Homo sapiens: one gene and its partners. The protein of the gene in region 1 purifies or fractionates together with the protein of each later gene. This does not show direct contact. Each region holds a gene or a part of one and is shown on either strand. Other genes may lie near its edges.

Region 1 (4,145 bases):
ACCGCTCGAGAAAGTGCCCCTTGCTATTCAAAGTCAACCCCGAACCCACCCACTGCCCCCACCCAACCCCTTCCCTCCTGCCACCCCGGACCCAGCTCCTCGGATTCAGGGACGCTGCCGACACCTCGCCTGCTGGAGCGGGCACCGTGTCACCCCCATCAATCAGATGGCTGCGTGTGGGTCTGGGGTACAGGGTCGGGGCGCGGGGTCCGCCTGACAGACGTGGCAGGGGGCTGTGTGTGTGTGTGTGTGTGTGTGAGCGAGTATGTGTGTGCTTGAGCCCAGCCACACCTCGGCCAGGCGGCCCCCGGGTGACTGGTGGGACAGAAGGTGCTCCCGGCGTAAGACAATGGTGGAGCGTGAAATTCAATTAGTTCAGGGCCTGGTTCCAATTTCACAGCCCCTAAATGCAAAAGGGGCAAAGAGAATGGGAGGGTGGGGGAGAGCGTTTTTATTGCATTTTCTCTTTCATTCTGGGGGGCTTTCTCGCCCCTTCTCTCCCTGCAGCAGGCCTCAACCTGCACAGGGCTTTTGAAGGAGTCATTTGGAGTCCATATCTGTCACATCCATTTAAGGCGTTTCGGGAGGAGGGAGAGGGTGGGGTGGCGGGTGCAGACTCCTCCGCTGAGCCGGGCCCAGAGGCCCACTGCCCTCTCTTCCCACCCTAGGGGTCCCTGTGAAGGTGACCAACGTCAAGGATGGCACCACCCACCAGACCTCCTTGGAGCTCTTCATGTACCTGAACGAAGTCGCGTGAGTGTCTGCAGCCCTGTCCGGCCTCTTGGGAACCGCCGTCTCGGGCGAGCACGAGCCTGGACCGTTGCAGCTAATGGTTGTGGCTGAGGCTCAGGGGTGCGGAGCACAGGCCATGTCCCTTCCCCATAGCCACAGAGTTTCCCGGACCAGGGGGACCCATTTGGCAGGAGAGGCTCCGTGGTCCTTAGCCTTGGAAGATAACAACCCCAGGAGGTCTCCTGCCTCCAAGGGATCATTAGGCCGGGGCTCTCAGGCCCTTGGCTGGATGGGAGGCCAGGATAGAAGGAAAGGGAGCAGTAGTTAGCTGTGGCGCTAGGCAGGGCCCCAGGACACAGGGAACGGAAGGAACAATGTGAACTCACACCTGGGCAATCCCTGCTCTCTCTGGGCCTCAGTTTCCCCACCTGTCCAGTGGGCACCTGGACTAGGTGACCCGGCTCAGATGTCCTCTTGAGTCTTAGATCCTGAAATGCTGCCTAATGTGTGGCCTAAGCTGTGCCCACCCTGGGACAGCCCAGCTGGGTGGGTGACTCTGAGCCTTGCGGTAGCGCCCGAACCTAATGGACCAGTTCTTCCCACAGGGGCAAGCATGGCGTGGGCCGTATTGACATCGTGGAGAACCGCTTCATTGGAATGAAGTCCCGAGGTGAGTCTGCTCAGCCTCCCTCAGGGCCTGCCTCGGGACCCAGCAAACCCAGAGATCCCTGAGACCCTGTCCCCTTTGGACGCTACTACCCCCATGCTCCGTGGGCGACCTTGGGCACGTCCTTTCACCACACCCCGTGAGACCGCAGTTTCCCTCCTGCCAAGTGGGGATCGTGGGCCCTTTGCCCCTGACTTTCAGGGTGTTATGAGAAGAGCTGTCCAAGGGCTGGGAGAGGCCCAGGAGGGCCTGGGGAGTCTCCGAGGAGCAGGGAGGCCAGGGCCAGGCCTGGAGGTCAGGCTGTCTTGTGTCTGGGGTGGGCAGGCCGGGTGTGGAGGCAGACCGTGCAGGCCCGATTTCGTGGTCATTAAGGCCGCATGGAGGCCGCCGGCCAGGCAGGGCGAAAATCCTGCCAGGGGTGGGCGCTGTGGCTGCACAGGCACTGGGAGCCGGCCAGGGCCTAAGGACCTGTCCCAGCATCAGGCACGGCTCACTGGCCCTTTTCTCCAGGGATGGGGCTGTGCCACAGTTGGGGCTGTGCCGCAGTTGAGGCTGAGCTTCAGTGTGACATGCCTGCCACCTCGGCTGGCCTCTAGCCTGCCTAGCCTCGTATCCGCCTGTGGCTGGGCCCAGGAGCAGGGCAGTTGGTCCCCAAGCAGGTGCCTCTGTCTTCTCTTAGTAGCCAAAGCCCATGATTCCCTTTGTCAGCCAATCAGCATTTCATCTTGACCACAACCCTCCTCTCCAGGACTCAGTTTCCCCATTCATACACCAAGGGGATCTCAGCTCCCTGAGGGTCTGCCAGTGTGTGATAAAGCCATGCTGTGTTCTTTCTTGGGGGTCCTAAGAGGGAAAGAGCAAGGTTTCAGCAGTTGCAGCCCCTGAATTGGGCACCTGAATTTTTATACTGGTGGTGGGGTCAGGGCTTCCTGTTTCGGTAAATGTTCAGGTCTCTTTGCTTAGGGTTGATTTGAAAAGATACCACAACCAAATATCACCTGGCCACGGTATAGTCACGGCCCCATGTCTCTCAGGCTATTTTTACTAAGATTCTAAAATCCAAAGAGAGCCGATCACCCCATGTGGGCCAGAAGAAAAGGGTGGTGGTCCGGAGGGCAGGATGCCTGCTTCTGGTCTCAGGTTTGCCCTGCCTTGCCCAACAACCTTGGACTTGTCATCTATCGCTAGGCCTCAGTTTCCCCAAGTGTAATGCGGTAGGCGCTGGGAGTTGCATCACTCTGGCTCTGACCTGTCTGCGTTTCCCTGGAAAGGCATGGCAGCATGGACCGGGGCGGGGACGGGCTTGCCTCGAAAGACATGGGAGCGCGGAAGGGGAGGCAGGCTCGCCTCTTTCTTGTGGCTTTAGCTCCTTGCTTGCTGTTATTCAGGAGAAACAACCTAATTGAAGCTCTGGGGAGGCCTTGAGAACAATGTTACTAATTAGCTGCTCCTTTTTATCCGGGCTTACCTTTGTCTCTTACCTATATTAACATGTGATTAGATGCCCCTTTGTCGCAGCCTGCCCTTGGGAGCCAGCGCGGTGTGCACCCTCCAGGGAGAGCTGGGAGGGACCTTGAGGAGCCACAGACCAGCACCCCATTTACAGATGCGGAAGCCAGGGCTGGGGAGGGGTGGGATAGAGGGCTTGCTTCAAGTCCCAGGCACTTTAGTGGCAGGACCAGGACTGCCATCTGGGCCCAGAGTGGCATGGAGTGGAGGGCTAACAGCTTAGACTGGAGTTGGACAGATCTGGGTTCAAACTCATGTATGGTGGCAGGAACTGGTACACTGGAAGTGCTCCATAAATAGCCATCAGTCCCCCGGGCATGTGGAATGGGGACAGAAGCAGCCCCCATCCTCTGGGAGCTGTCAGTGTGGCGGGGGGTGGGGTGGGTTCCAGTATTGCACCTGTCTTATCATAATAAGGGCCTGCCACAGGCATGCCCTTGCCATGCCTGTGGCAGGCATCACCAGTCAATGCTGGCATTATCCTGTTGACTCCAGAGGTATCTCAGGGCTGCTTGCAGGCACTACCAAATGATCAGGATTGGCATACGTGATGAAAGTGTATTGCCTTCCCTATTGGAAAGATAAGGACTGGCCTGAAGTCACTGTGAAATGGCATCCTGTGGGGTGGGGCGAGTCAAGCAGAGTTGAGCAAAAATGAACTGAAGGAGGTGGTTAGTGATGAAAACCTGGAATGCACTATTCTGAATGTGGAATGGTAGCTGACAGCATTCCACGGAGGCTGGACCTTTTTCCCAGAATGGGGGCCTCATCCCCGTAGAAGGTCAAAGCCATGAGATCAACAGTCTGTTCCAATCCCCGTGGCTCCTTACCACCCACCTGGGGAAAGCTTCCTGGAGCCCAGCCTTCACTCTGCCCTGGTACTTTGTGTGTGCTGTTGGAGGCTCTCCCCAAAAGCACAGAATTTAGTCAGTGTCGTACAGGGAAGAAAATCGGGATTCTGACGGCAAGAACTTGCTGTGTGATCTTAGGCAAGTTTCTCCCTCTGGAACTCCAATTGTCAAGGGGCCAGATGAGGAGGTCGTATCATCTCCCTCTGAATGTCCTCACTCACCTATTTTCTTGCTTTGGGTTGGGGAGAGAAGACAAAGTTGCTAGGTAATTTTAGGGTGGTGTCTTGTTTTTATTTCTCTACTCCAAATATTTCATGTGAGAAGGAAAGAGGAGAGACGGTAAATTAGGGCACTGTGGATTCCCCCATGACAAGGTTTTTATTAAG
Region 2 (4,145 bases), on another chromosome or scaffold:
GGGTTATTCCAAACAAAGCCCTATAGTTCCAGTGAGAGAGCCCCCAGCCCCGGTGGCCACGGCTCCTCCCCTCCGGCTGCAGCACATACCCGCAGCAGAGCACACAGCTGTAGGGCACTCACCAGCAGGCACATCGGGCACAGCGCACACCTGCCACAGTGCGAGCCCGACTGTCCTCCCTGCTCCCTCCACAGAACCCCTCCCTGTTCTCCAGGCTTCTCGGGGGTGGGGTGGGCTGGGCTGGCTCCTTCACTTGGGGAGCTTCGTATGCCAACAACCGTGGGTGCCCACGTGGGATGAAATGACTGAATGGCACCCCTTGTGCGACCTTCAGGTGGCCATCCAGCTGAACGACACCCACCCCGCCCTCTCCATCCCTGAGCTCATGCGGATCCTGGTGGACGTGGAGAAGGTGGACTGGGACAAGGTGAGCATGGAGGAAAAGGGCGGCACCTCCCCAGAGCCTGGAGCCCGTGCAGACCAGGGCTACAAGGAGCTGAGCTGGGGGGCCTCTTCCCTGGCCTTGGGAGAGCTGTGTGGTCATCATGCCCAGGAGAGACGCGAGCTGTGGGAGGGGTCTGGTTCCAGGAGACGGAGGTTCCGGGGGCCAGAGTATGGGGTCAGGGCGCGGGGGAGATGATAAGGATAGGGCTGTGACACTTCTCAGGGTTTCCCGTTGGTGCATTCTCATCTTGAAATTTGGTGACAGCTCCCCAAAGCGTTAAGTGTTTAGAGGTCTGTGCTCTATTCATGCACCTGCCCTCGCGATTCAGTGTATTTTGGACTTAAATATGTTTGTGTGGTAGGATTTTCTTAATCTAACCGTTACCAAATCAACATGTGGAACCATAAAACAGGCCAATGTGGTGACTCACACCCGTAATCCTAGTGCTTCGGGAAGCCAAGGCAGGAGGGTTGCTTGAGGCCGGAAGTTAGAGACCAGCCTGGGCAATACAGCAAGACCCCACCTCTAAAAAAAAAGCCAGGTGTGGCAGCACACACCCAGAAAAATAAAACCAAAAGAAACCATAAAACGATTTTTTTTAACTCCGTTTTGTAGAAACCCAAGCCCCTCTCTGGTCTTGGGGTGTGTGCACTCCAGGTGAGGCTGTACCTGTTGTGGGTACCCCAGTTCTGGCCAGCATAGGGCAGGTCTGTGTAGTAACCAGTGTCCTCCCCACCATGTCTGGCCACTTTAGTGGAAATAAATAGAAAACTGCTCAATGGTCTGTCCGTTTACCAGTGACGGCAGAGTGTGAAGGTGACTCCAGGTAGCAGGCGATTGTGTCTTATTTGTGTGTGTGTCACGCACTGGACCATAATGTCACACTTCAGTGGGTTGCGTCAGCAGAGTGAGGGCTCTGGGCTGCGTGTCAGGCTTTCAGAGGGCTCCAGATCCACCTTGGAGAGCAGAGGGGACGGTGGCCCTTCCTGGGGTACCCAGCATCTGCCTGGGATCCTGGACGCTCACCCTGCCTAGGCAACTGGCCAGAGAGCTGCTTGTTTCTAAACAAACACATGGGAACATTCTCTAATGGCCTAGGCCTGGGAAATCACGAAGAAGACCTGTGCATACACCAACCACACTGTGCTGCCTGAGGCCTTGGAGCGCTGGCCCGTGTCCATGTTTGAGAAGCTGCTGCCGCGGCACCTGGAGATAATCTATGCCATCAACCAGCGGCACCTGGACGTGAGTGTGGGCCCAGCTGGCCGTGTAGGGTGGCGGCTACACCCATGCCAACGGCCCCCCACCTGGCCTGGGAGAGGAGGTGCTTTGCTCCTTGAACGAGGCACCCTCTGTTCAGCAGAGGATGCTTGGGGCTGGGGGCTGTCCCTTGGCAGAGCTATTGGCTGATCCCCACGCCTGGCCCACAGCCTCAGGTTCCTCTTTGTAAATTAAATTGCACGTCCTCTCCCTCAGACCCATCTTCCTCAGACAGCAGCCCTGTGGGTCCCTGGGCCGGGCTGGGCCCTTTCCTGGGCTGGGGAGTTGGGTGAGCGAGAGCCTCCTCCTCAAGCTGGGCCTGGGCTCTTGTGAGATGCCTTGGAGGTGCCTGCTGGGTCTGGGAGCACTTGAGGGAGGTCTGGCTGTCACAGCCCCAGAACTTCCCTGGAGGCAGCAGAGCTTCCCATGGGTGGTCATGGAGTGTCCCCTGGTCATGGGGAGTGCTGGGTCTCCGTGGGGCCTCCTGTGCCCACCCACCTGCCTCTGTGTTTTGGCACCAGCACGTGGCCGCGCTGTTTCCCGGCGATGTGGACCGCCTGCGCAGGATGTCTGTGATCGAGGAGGGGGACTGCAAGCGGATCAACATGGCCCACCTGTGTGTGATTGGGTCCCATGCTGTCAATGGTGTGGCGAGGATCCACTCGGAGATCGTGAAACAGTCGGTGTGAGTGGGGCGCTTGCCCGAGCGGGGCCAGCTCTGTCTGACACCCAGGCCTGCGTCTAGGACCATCCACCAAACACATGGACCCAGCTATATAGCATACAACCTGTGCCACTAGGCCCCTGCCTCCATAGGAATGACAGAGCTGCCCAGAACACCCTGTCAGGGTCACGCCTTGTTGTGCGTTCACCGACCAGCACACGGGGGCCTCTGGAGGGCTCTGGCTCTGCGGGCAACGGGGAGACGGCTTTGTCTCCTGTTGCTCTCCTGCGCCCCTGCCTTCCTGGGGGTCCAGTCGGAGGCTCTGCACCACTGGTCCACCTGCCGCTGGCAGGGCTTGGACAGGGCTTGAAGGTGGGATTCTTAGGTCAGATCTTGTTCTTGCCCCTCTTAGGTGGGGCGTGATCTAGGAATTACTCCCACTCTTTCACGTAGCATGTGCTGAGCACCTACTGTGAGTACTGAGCAGGCAGCAGCCGGCGGGAGCGGAGGCTGTGCCCGGGGCTGGGCTGCAGGCTCTGTGCGTGGCGCCCGCAGCAAGCTTCGTGTCGGGCCCCTCCCCAGTAGCTATGAGGAAACCGAGCGCAGCTTCTCAAGCCCTGAAGTCCTGCGGTCTCGGCTGTCATGACTTGGACACCTGTTTCCGCACGGACCGCTCTGGAGAATGGCCAGGCTCTAATGCCTGCAAGGTTGTGGTTGGGCAAACCGCACAGCCAGCCACAGATGCCCCGGGGTGCAGGTGCTGCCTTCGTATGGCTCCCAGAGCCTGCAGCTGCCGCGGTCACTCTGTTCTCCTTAGAAAACAGAACAGAACCACTGAGCTTGAGGGCTCCTGGGACCTCCTTAAAAGGACTTTAAGGTCTGTTGCTCACCTGGTGCAGGGCACAGCATTTGTGACAGTTCCCTGTTCTCTGTGTTTGCAGCTTTAAGGATTTTTATGAACTGGAGCCAGAGAAGTTCCAGAATAAGACCAATGGCATCACCCCCCGCCGGTGGCTGCTGCTGTGCAACCCGGGGCTGGCCGATACCATCGTGGAGGTGAGTCCCGGGCCCCACCCGTGCCTGTGGAGATGCCTGGGCTGAGAACCGCGGGCCATGTCATCAGCCCCTGCTGAGCGGTTGCTGAGTAGGCAGGAGTCTGTCCCTCACGTGTTGACCTGCAGGCTTCTGGACATGAGGGCTGAGCCCCTGAACATGGGCGCTGAGCTGGGCAGTCACCCATTGGGCCTGGCGGGTCCTGTGTGCGAGTTCAGAAGCCGAGCTTTAGGGAGGGCTGGGGTGTGGCTGAGTGCAGCCACGGGGCCACTGCAAAAGAGTCAAGAGGCAGCTGACTGCCAGCTAGGCTGGGCACCTATTTCCTGTTTGTATGTTGGCTCCTATGCAAGCTCCCTGAGGAAATGAGTGCTGAGGTGTCAGGCCCTGCGCTACAGGCAAGGACCAGCCGCTGGGAGGGTGGGACCGCCCACCTGGGGCTATGGTCAGGGAAGCCTTCCCAGGAAAGCTGAGGTCTGAAGAGGGAATGAAGAGAGAGTGAGCAGTGCTCTGGGGCAAACTGGTTCAATGCCCTGTGCTGGGGGACGGGCCCCTGGGACCTGGAAAGCAGCGTGGCTCCTGTGCAGTCTGAGATGGGCCTGGGTACAGTGAGGAGAGGTGGCCGAGTGTTTGCAGGCAGCACCTGGGTGAGGTGCTGGCTTTGAGGGGACCGCCTGCTTCAGGCAGGGAAGGTGCTGGTGGAGGGCAGCGGGAGGATGGCTTTGG
Region 3 (4,145 bases), on another chromosome or scaffold:
GTGAGGGGCACAGTGTCCACTTTACAAGCTCCTCAGGATGTTTCATGCCACAGCCACCGAGGCCTTGGAGGAGCAGCAGATTGGCAGTCAGAGCCTGCGATATAGGGAAAACCCACCACCAATCTCATTTCTTCAGCTGAGCTCCTGCCGCTTGGCCTCCGTGACGGTTTTCTCCCCTCCGCCTCTCTCTCTCTCTCCCACTTCTTGCTGTTTCCACACATCCTTGCTTTTCCCCACCTCCGTTCCAAGGCTCATCAGGGATCCAACCTTCCTGCCTCCTCTTTGTGAGCACGTTCTGTTCTCCCTGTCCTCCCCACCTCGCTGTCTCCCAGCATGACGCAGAGGGACAACAGCACAGACTCGTCCATCTCCTCTGGCTAGCCCTGCTTGCTCTGACAGCCACCACCAGCATCGGGCACCCAGACGAGCTGGTGCCCCCGAGCAGGAGTTACTGTTACGTCTCTCCATGGTCTTCCCCACCCAGCCTCTAGAGAGGCCTAGCTCGGTGCCATCAGGCTTCTTCATACAGCTCTCAAAGCTTCTTTTAAGAGGAACAAGGTAAAAAAATGGATACATTAATAAATGGCATTAAAACTGGCTCATTATCTGGGAGGAAAATACTCCATTCCTACCTCCCACTGAAAAAAATTCAAATGGATTAAAGGTTTCAATGTAAACAAAACAGTTCTTGAAGAAAACTAAGGATTTACAAGTAAGGATAGGGAAGAACGTTCTAGGCGTAAAAACTGAAGTCAGATAAGGCAAAGGAAAATGACAGATCTGACTATGTAAATACTATTATCTCGGTATCTACATAAAACTACTATGTAGAAAATTTAAAATTTTTAAAAACCTCTCATCATCATAAACTGCAAAAATATTTACAACATATGACAATAGTTTATATTGCTAATTGATAAACTCATTTATAAACATATAATTTATGAACTAATTTATAATGCTAATTTATAATGAAATTTATATTAACAGCTGGGCATGGTGGTTCACACCTATAATCCCAGCACTTTGGGAGGCCGAGGCGGGCAGATCAGCTGAGGTCAGGAGTTCAAGACCAGCCTGGCCAACATAGTGAAACCACGTCTCTACTAAAAATACAAAACTTAGCTGGGCGTGGTGGCACGCACCTATAATCCGAGCTACTCGGGAGGTTGAGGCAGGAGAATGGCTTGAGCCTGGGAGGTGGAGGTTGCAGTGAGCCGAGATCGCGCCACTGAACCTCCAGCCTGGGAGACAGAGCAAGACTCTGTCTCAAAAAAAAAAAAAAAAAAAAGAAAGAAGTTTATATTAACATTAAAATGTAATTATATTATTTAATTTATACTAAAATTAAAACTAATTTATATTGCTAATTTATAATGACCCAATGAAAAATGGTCAAGAGGTACAAATATACAATCCAAAGAGAAGAAACACAACTGGCAATAAACATGAAAAGATGAACTTCATTCTTTACTACAGAAAGGCAAAATCCGCACCCCCCTCCACACACACACATGCATTTTTTAACCAATTTGATTTGTGTGATTTTGGTTTTGGTGAGGATGTGATAAAATGGCTACATAAAAACACAGTTTGTGGCAGTGTAATTGTTACATCTTTCTGGAAGGCAAGTTCTCAATATTTATCAGCATTTACCCTTCAGGAGTTCTTGCATGGGTAGATAAGGATGATACACAGGGATATTCACCACAGCATTTACCCTTCAGGAGTACTTGCATGGGTAGATAAGGATGACACACAGGGATATTCACCGGAAGGCAAGTTCTCAGTATTTATCAGCATTTACCCTTCCAGAGTACTTGCATGGGTAGATAAGGATGATACACAGGGATATTCACTACAGCATTTACCCTTCAGGAGTACTTGCATGGGTAGATAAGGATGACACACAGGGATATTCACCGGAAGGCAAGTTCTCAGTATTTATCAGCATTTACCCTTCCAGAGTACTTGCATGGGTAGATAAGGATGATACACAGGGATATTCACTACAGCATTTACCCTTCAGGAGTACTTGCATGAGTAGATAAGGATGATACACAGGGATATTCACTACAGCACGGGATCTCATTCTGTTACCCAGGCTGGAATGCAGTGGCATGATCATAGTTCACTATAACCTCAAATTCCTGGGCTCAAGCAATCCTCCTTCCTCAGCCTCTCAAATAGCTGCAACTACACAGACCATGCCTGGCTATCTTTTTATTTTTTGTAGAGACGAGGTCTGACTATACTGCCCAGGCTGGTCTCAAATGCCTAGCTTCAGGCAATCTTCCTGCCTTGGCCTCCCAGAGTGCTGGGATAACAGGTGTGAGCCACGGTGCCTGGCCCAGCATTACTTTTAATGTAAAAATTATATACTATTTATTATCATTGTCCATCAGTAAGAAATTGCTTACATAAATTTTGTATTAAATCCACAAAATCTATGTTAAAGCTCTTGTGGCTGAATATGTTTCAGAATTTTTGAGATTTTAGAAAAGATCATATGGTTTACATCCCACGTTATGTCACACCTAAAGGGGATCTGGAGTGGTACTCCACAGTCAAACACATTAACATTTCGTCCACAAAGCACATGAGATAGAGTCTGTGCGTGACACCAGCTCATTCAGTTCATGATGGCACCAGCCTTACAGACATGGGTTTCTCAGTTGGGACCTCATATCCGTGTAAGGGAAACTGTTGGCATTAACAACGCAGCACATCTCCATGGACTCACATTGTTACGTGAAAACAGCAGGCTGCAGAATAGAATGTACAGTGCTGTCCAACTTTTAGTTTAAAATTACCATCTGTACGTATGCATTTGTACAAAAAAAAGAAAGCTGAGAGGACACAGAATAAAATGCTAACAGTTGGTGGGATTAAAAAGTTGATCCTTTGCTTTATATCTTTATATAATGTACGAATCTTTTCAAAGACACACATGATACACTTATAATCAGGAAAAAGGCCATTTTCATTTCACTTCAACAATAAAGATGGCTGGTGGCCCAAGTGTCCACACCTGGTGGCCAGCACGGTCAGCTGGTCTCAGCCCACACTGTGCTGACCACCATGGCCCCTCTGACTGCTCCTCCTGTGTCTGTCCCTCCATCCTAGGCCTAGCATGGCATTCTCATGTCTGTCCACACCCTGGGCTCTCCTGTCTGCTCACTCCAGCACCCCAGCTCCTGCCTCTGGGCCTTCCTGGACTCCAGACTCATGTCCACCTGCTCAACACCTCCAGTCCGCAGCACATCCTCAAATCCGTGGAAACAAGGCTGAGTTCCTGAGCTCCCCCAAACCCACCTACCAGGCTTCTCCATCTCAGGAAGCGGCGGCTCCGTCTTTCCAGCTGCTCCAGCCACAGCCCTGGGGTCCTTGGGAATCCACGGCCTCCCATGCACTGTGCCAGCGTACCCACTCTGCGTTCACACACACCCAGACTCCAGCACCCCTCAGCCTCTGCTGGCTTTACCTGGCCCCCAGCCAGTGCCAGCCGGTGATTACCTACAAGGGCCCTGCTGGGTCTGCTGCTCCCAGTCTTGCCCCCATGGTGGGCTCACAGCCCAGCACCCAACGGAGTCCTCTCAACTTCAGACTCTGGCCTGGAACCCAAGCTGAACCCATTCACCTTCTGAGGTGGCGCCAGCCTCCCATGAGATGACACTTGTGCCCCACCTTCTTCTCTGCTCCAGCCCCGTGGCCATCAATGCTGACTTCGCCCCACCCTCCTTGCTGCTTGTCACCTGTGCAGTGTCCCCTGCCAGACCCTCCTCACCTCGGTAAACTCTTAGATCCAACTCCACCTGCCTGACTTGACACTGCAGCTGGTTCCCAACCCTTCTAGCCTTTCTATCCTACTTGTTATCTTTCTCATAACATCAATCATCTCCTAACAAACTATATAACTTCTTACACTGACATCTGACCGTGTATGTCCAAAGCACTGGAGCAGGGCCCAGCACACAATGAATGCCTGAACAAACACATGCTCTGGGCCCCTGTGGCTGCCCTGGGCCCCTCTGAGCACAGGTCTTTCTGGCCCTTCTGTCCTCGGTGCCTACATCCAGTCACGCACACACTGACTTCATGGTCTCATTTCTTGCTCTCATCACAGCTTTTAGGAATTTCCTGAG
Region 4 (4,145 bases), on another chromosome or scaffold:
AATACTTATTCTGTATTATAGAATGAGGTGTTGCCTTATTCTAAAAACAAAATGAATAAATAAACCGTAAAAGATAGGTTCTTTATTTTTGGACCCAAGTTATCAGGCTTTTATCCCTTTCTCACAAAAGAATTGCTCTATTCTTTTTCTTATGGTATGTTTCTTCTCTCAATGAAAGGCTCTATCCCTGAAGAGGATGCTGGGAAATTATATAACACCTGTGCTGTGTTTGGGCCTGATGGAACTTTACTAGCAAAGTATAGAAAGGTAAGTAGGAAGTGTGGCATAAGAATTTGTTATCTCTAAGCCAGCAACAATGTGTGGAAAAAAAATTTGCTATGAAGTTCCCTAGTCCCTCTCATTATATCACACATGTATTAGGGTTTTGACTGATTGGCACAGGTGGTTATTCTTGGCCATTTGCATTTTTATATAAGTTTTAGACTCAGCCTGTCAATTTCTGCAAAGGAACAAGCTATAGTAATTTTTTTTTTGACAGAATCTCGCTCTGTCACCCAGGCTGGAGTATAGTGGCACAATCTTGGCTCACTGCTAGCTCTGCCTCCTGGGTTCACACCATTCTCCTGCCTCAGCCTCCCGAGTAGCTGGGACTACAGGTGCCCACCACCATGCCCAGCTAATTTTTTGTATTTTTAGTAGAGACTTGGTTTCACCGTGTTAGCCAGGATGGTCTCAATCTCCTGACCTCATGATCCACCCGCCTCAGCCTCCTAAAGTGCTGGGATTACAGGCATGAGCCACCGTGCCCAGCCAACCTATAGTAATTTTTATTAGTATTTCATTGAATATATAGAGAACACTGTGGGAAGAGTTGCCATCTTTTTAGTATTAAATGCGTATACATGACCAGGTGCAGTGGCCCATGCCTGTAATCCCAGCACTTTGGGAGGTCTGAGTAAGTGGATCACCTGAGGTCAGGAGTTCAAGACCAGCCTGGCCAACATGGTGAAACCCCATCTCTACTAAAAATACAAAATTGGCTGGGTGTAGTGGTGCACACCTATATAGTCCCAGCTACTCAGGAAGCTGAGACAGGAGAATTGCTTGAACCCAGGAGGTGGACGCTGCAGTGAGCCAAGATTGCGCCACTGCACTCCAACCTGGGCAAGACAGAGCAAGACTCCATCTCAAAAAAAAAAATCATATACATTTAGTATCATTAAGTCTTCTTGATGAGTTGACCCTTTTATCATTATGAAATATCTCTTTTTTTTCTTGTAATACCTCTTGTCTTGAATTCTGCTTTATCTCTGCTATCACTATAGCCACTCCAGCCTTCTTATGCCTAATGTTTGCTGGTACGTGGTTTTTCCAGTTCTTTGTTCTCAAGCTATATGTGTTTTTATATTTTAAGTGGATCTCTTTTGTCAACAGCATATAATTGTATCTTAATTTTTTCTTTATTCTGACAATCTGTGTCTTTTAATTGAAGTGGTTAGTCCATTTATATTTAATGCACTTATTGATATGATTGAATTTAGGGATAGAGACATTTTACTTTTTTTTCCCTTTGTTCATCTTTTCTGTATTATTTTGGATTAATTGAATATTTTTTAGAGTTCTGTTTTAATTTATCTATTGGCTTTTTAGTTATACATCTTAGCTTTTTTTTTTTTTCCAGTTGTTGCCCTGGGAATTATCATATGCATCCTTAACTTTTCACAGGCTACTTAAGAGTTCATATTATATCATTTCATGTGAAATTTAAGAACCTTATAATGATATAGGTCCATTTTTCTACCCCACTGCCCCTGCCCTCATTCTTTATGCTATAGTTGTCATTTGTATTCCATGTATATATGTTATAAATCCCACAAAACAGGAATACTTGATTTAAATAGTCATATGTATTTTAAGGAAATTAAGAAGAAAAAAATCTTTATGTTTACCCAAATATTTATCATTTCTGGTGTTTTTCTTTCCTTCCTGAAGATCCTCCTTCTATCTGGTATATCCTTCAGACCAAAGGATCTCATTTAGAATTTTTGTTCTGAGGATCTGTTAGCTAGGAATTCTGTTAGTTTTTCTTTATGAATATATCTTTACATTGTTTTCATTCTTGAAAGATATTTTTGCTGGAATAGAATTTTGGATTGATAGTTTTCCTTTTTTTCCACTAGTAGTTGTTATCTAGCCTTTTTTTTTTTCTTCCCTGATGAGAAGTGAGTAGTAATTTGTATTGTTCCCTCGGATATAATTTGTTGTTTTTTCTCTCCTTCTTTCAAGTGTTTTCATAATCTTTAGTTCTTAGTATTTTGACTCTGATATGCCTAGATGTGGTTTCCTTTGTCTTTGCCTTCCTTGGTACTTCTTGAAACTGTAAATTTAAATCTTTCACTGTGTTTGGGAAGTTTTTTGACACTATTTTGTTAAATATTTTTCTGTTCCTTTTTCTTATGGAGCTCCAGTATATGTATATTATATTTTTAAATATTTTTCCAAGGTCACCAGGCTCTGTTTTTCTGTTTTTGTCTTTCCAATACTTTTTCCTTCTCTTCTACAGATTAGATAATTTCTGTTGATCTTTCAGACTTATTCACTGTTTCTTCTGTCTTCTTCAATTTCCCGTAAGCCAACCCAGTGAAATTTTAAAAAATTGAGATATTAAAATTTTCAGTTCTGAAATACCCCTTTGCTTCTTTTTTATAGTTTTTATTACTCTATGATATTTTCTATTTGTTCATTAAAAGCATATTTTTCTTTACAGTGTTGAGCTTAGTTAGTTTCTATAGCTGCTTTAAAGTCTGATAATTATCACATCTGTGTGCCACAGAATGAGACTATTAGGCCTTTAAAAGGCCCCTGATGTAAATAAACTCATATCCAAGCAAACAACAAGAAAAAAATTATAACATCTGGGTCATGGCAGGATCTGTGTTCATTTGATTGCCTTTTCTTTGCAGTTTGGATCACACTTCTGTTTCTTTGAGTATCTACTAATTTAAGATTGTACAGTGGATTATATATTGTAGAGATTCAAGATGCTATTACAGTCTTCCAAAAAGTGTTGAATATTTTGTTTTAACTGATGGTTAACTTGGCCGCACCCAAACACCAAACTCTTATCTTCTTTGAAACGTGGGCAGCAACTTTAGCTGCTCTGTTCTATCTGGTTGTTCTGCCCCACTTCTATTTAACTCAGTGATCAGCCAGAGATTTAGAAAGATTTTATATGCAGAATTTAGGGCTCTCCCTCTTTGCTTTCTCCATTTCAGGATTTCCCCCCTTGGTTTCCAGCTCTGGTTCTTCAAGCCAGTGTGATTATGGGTCATTTTCACCACTACTTATCACAGCAACTGGGACCTTGCTTCAGGGTAGCAGCTGTAAATAGCACCAGGAAGTTCACCCAGGGCTGTTCCCTGCTTCCACATGTCTGTGTTCTTCTCTTCAGATTTTGTCTGCTTTGTTTTGGTCATTCTTCAGTGCTTTAAGTAGTTGTGCCTTTTATTTTGTCCAGAGTTCATAGTTAACCACAAGAAAACTGGTCTGATAGGAGCTACTGTGTACCTGCTGGAAGAACAGCCAGCATTGGACTATTAACCCAACTCTTTGAAGTATATCTTTTTAGTATTAAGTTTTCCAGTCCATGAATGTGGTATATATCCTGACATTTATTACGCTTTCTTTACTTTCTCTCAATTTCTTTTTATAGTTTTTTGGGTATAATTTTGTTTAACATTTGTGAGATTTATTCCTCATTGGTGTTTTTAGATGCTCTTTCATTTTCTGTTTTTGTTTTTGTTTTTTTGAGATGGAGTCTTGCTCTGTCGCTTAGGCTGGAGTGCAGTGGTGTGATCTTGGCTCACTGCAACCTCCACCTCCCTGGTTCAAGCTGTTCTCTTCTTTCAGCTTCCCAAGTGGCTGGGATTATAGGCATGCACCACCATGTCTGGCAAATTTTTGTATTTTTAGTAGAGACGGGGTTTCACCATGTTGGCCAGGCTGGTCTTGAACTCCTGACCTCAGGTGATTTTTAAATGCCCACCTACTTTCCACCTCTCCTGTCAATTTGTCAGTTTGATTCTGATAAGTATTTTTTTTTTCTTTTTTTTTTTGAGAGAGAGAGTCTTGCTCTGTCACCCAGGCTGGAGTGCAATGGCGTGATCTCGGCTCACTGCAACCTC

Evidence for each region.
Region 2: the proteins of ASS1 (region 1) and PYGB fractionate together in Homo sapiens (co-fractionation; one large-scale study listed by BioGRID). This does not show direct contact.
Region 3: the proteins of ASS1 (region 1) and SIRT3 purify together in Homo sapiens (affinity purification with mass spectrometry; 2 studies listed by BioGRID and IntAct, with this or other methods). This does not show direct contact.
Region 4: the proteins of ASS1 (region 1) and NIT2 fractionate together in Homo sapiens (co-fractionation; one large-scale study listed by BioGRID). This does not show direct contact.

Annotation. Positions count from the first base shown.
Region 1 is NC_000009.12:130,479,048-130,483,192, forward strand, and holds part of ASS1 (argininosuccinate synthase), read left to right. Parts: intron 1-668; coding exon 669-753; intron 754-1,337; coding exon 1,338-1,402; intron 1,403-4,145. UniProt on the Homo sapiens protein: One of the enzymes of the urea cycle, the metabolic pathway transforming neurotoxic amonia produced by protein catabolism into inocuous urea in the liver of ureotelic animals.
Region 2 is NC_000020.11:25,278,723-25,282,867, forward strand, and holds part of PYGB (glycogen phosphorylase, brain form), read left to right. Parts: intron 1-334; coding exon 335-427; intron 428-1,543; coding exon 1,544-1,690; intron 1,691-2,226; coding exon 2,227-2,390; intron 2,391-3,310; coding exon 3,311-3,425; intron 3,426-4,145. UniProt on the Homo sapiens protein: Glycogen phosphorylase that regulates glycogen mobilization. Phosphorylase is an important allosteric enzyme in carbohydrate metabolism. Enzymes from different sources differ in their regulatory mechanisms and in their natural substrates.
Region 3 is NC_000011.10:219,060-223,204, forward strand, and holds part of SIRT3 (NAD-dependent protein deacetylase sirtuin-3, mitochondrial), read right to left. Parts: intron 542-4,145; exon of another isoform or gene 1-541.
Region 4 is NC_000003.12:100,340,895-100,345,039, forward strand, and holds part of NIT2 (omega-amidase NIT2), read left to right. Parts: intron 1-178; coding exon 179-267; intron 268-4,145. UniProt on the Homo sapiens protein: Has omega-amidase activity. The role of omega-amidase is to remove potentially toxic intermediates by converting 2-oxoglutaramate and 2-oxosuccinamate to biologically useful 2-oxoglutarate and oxaloacetate, respectively.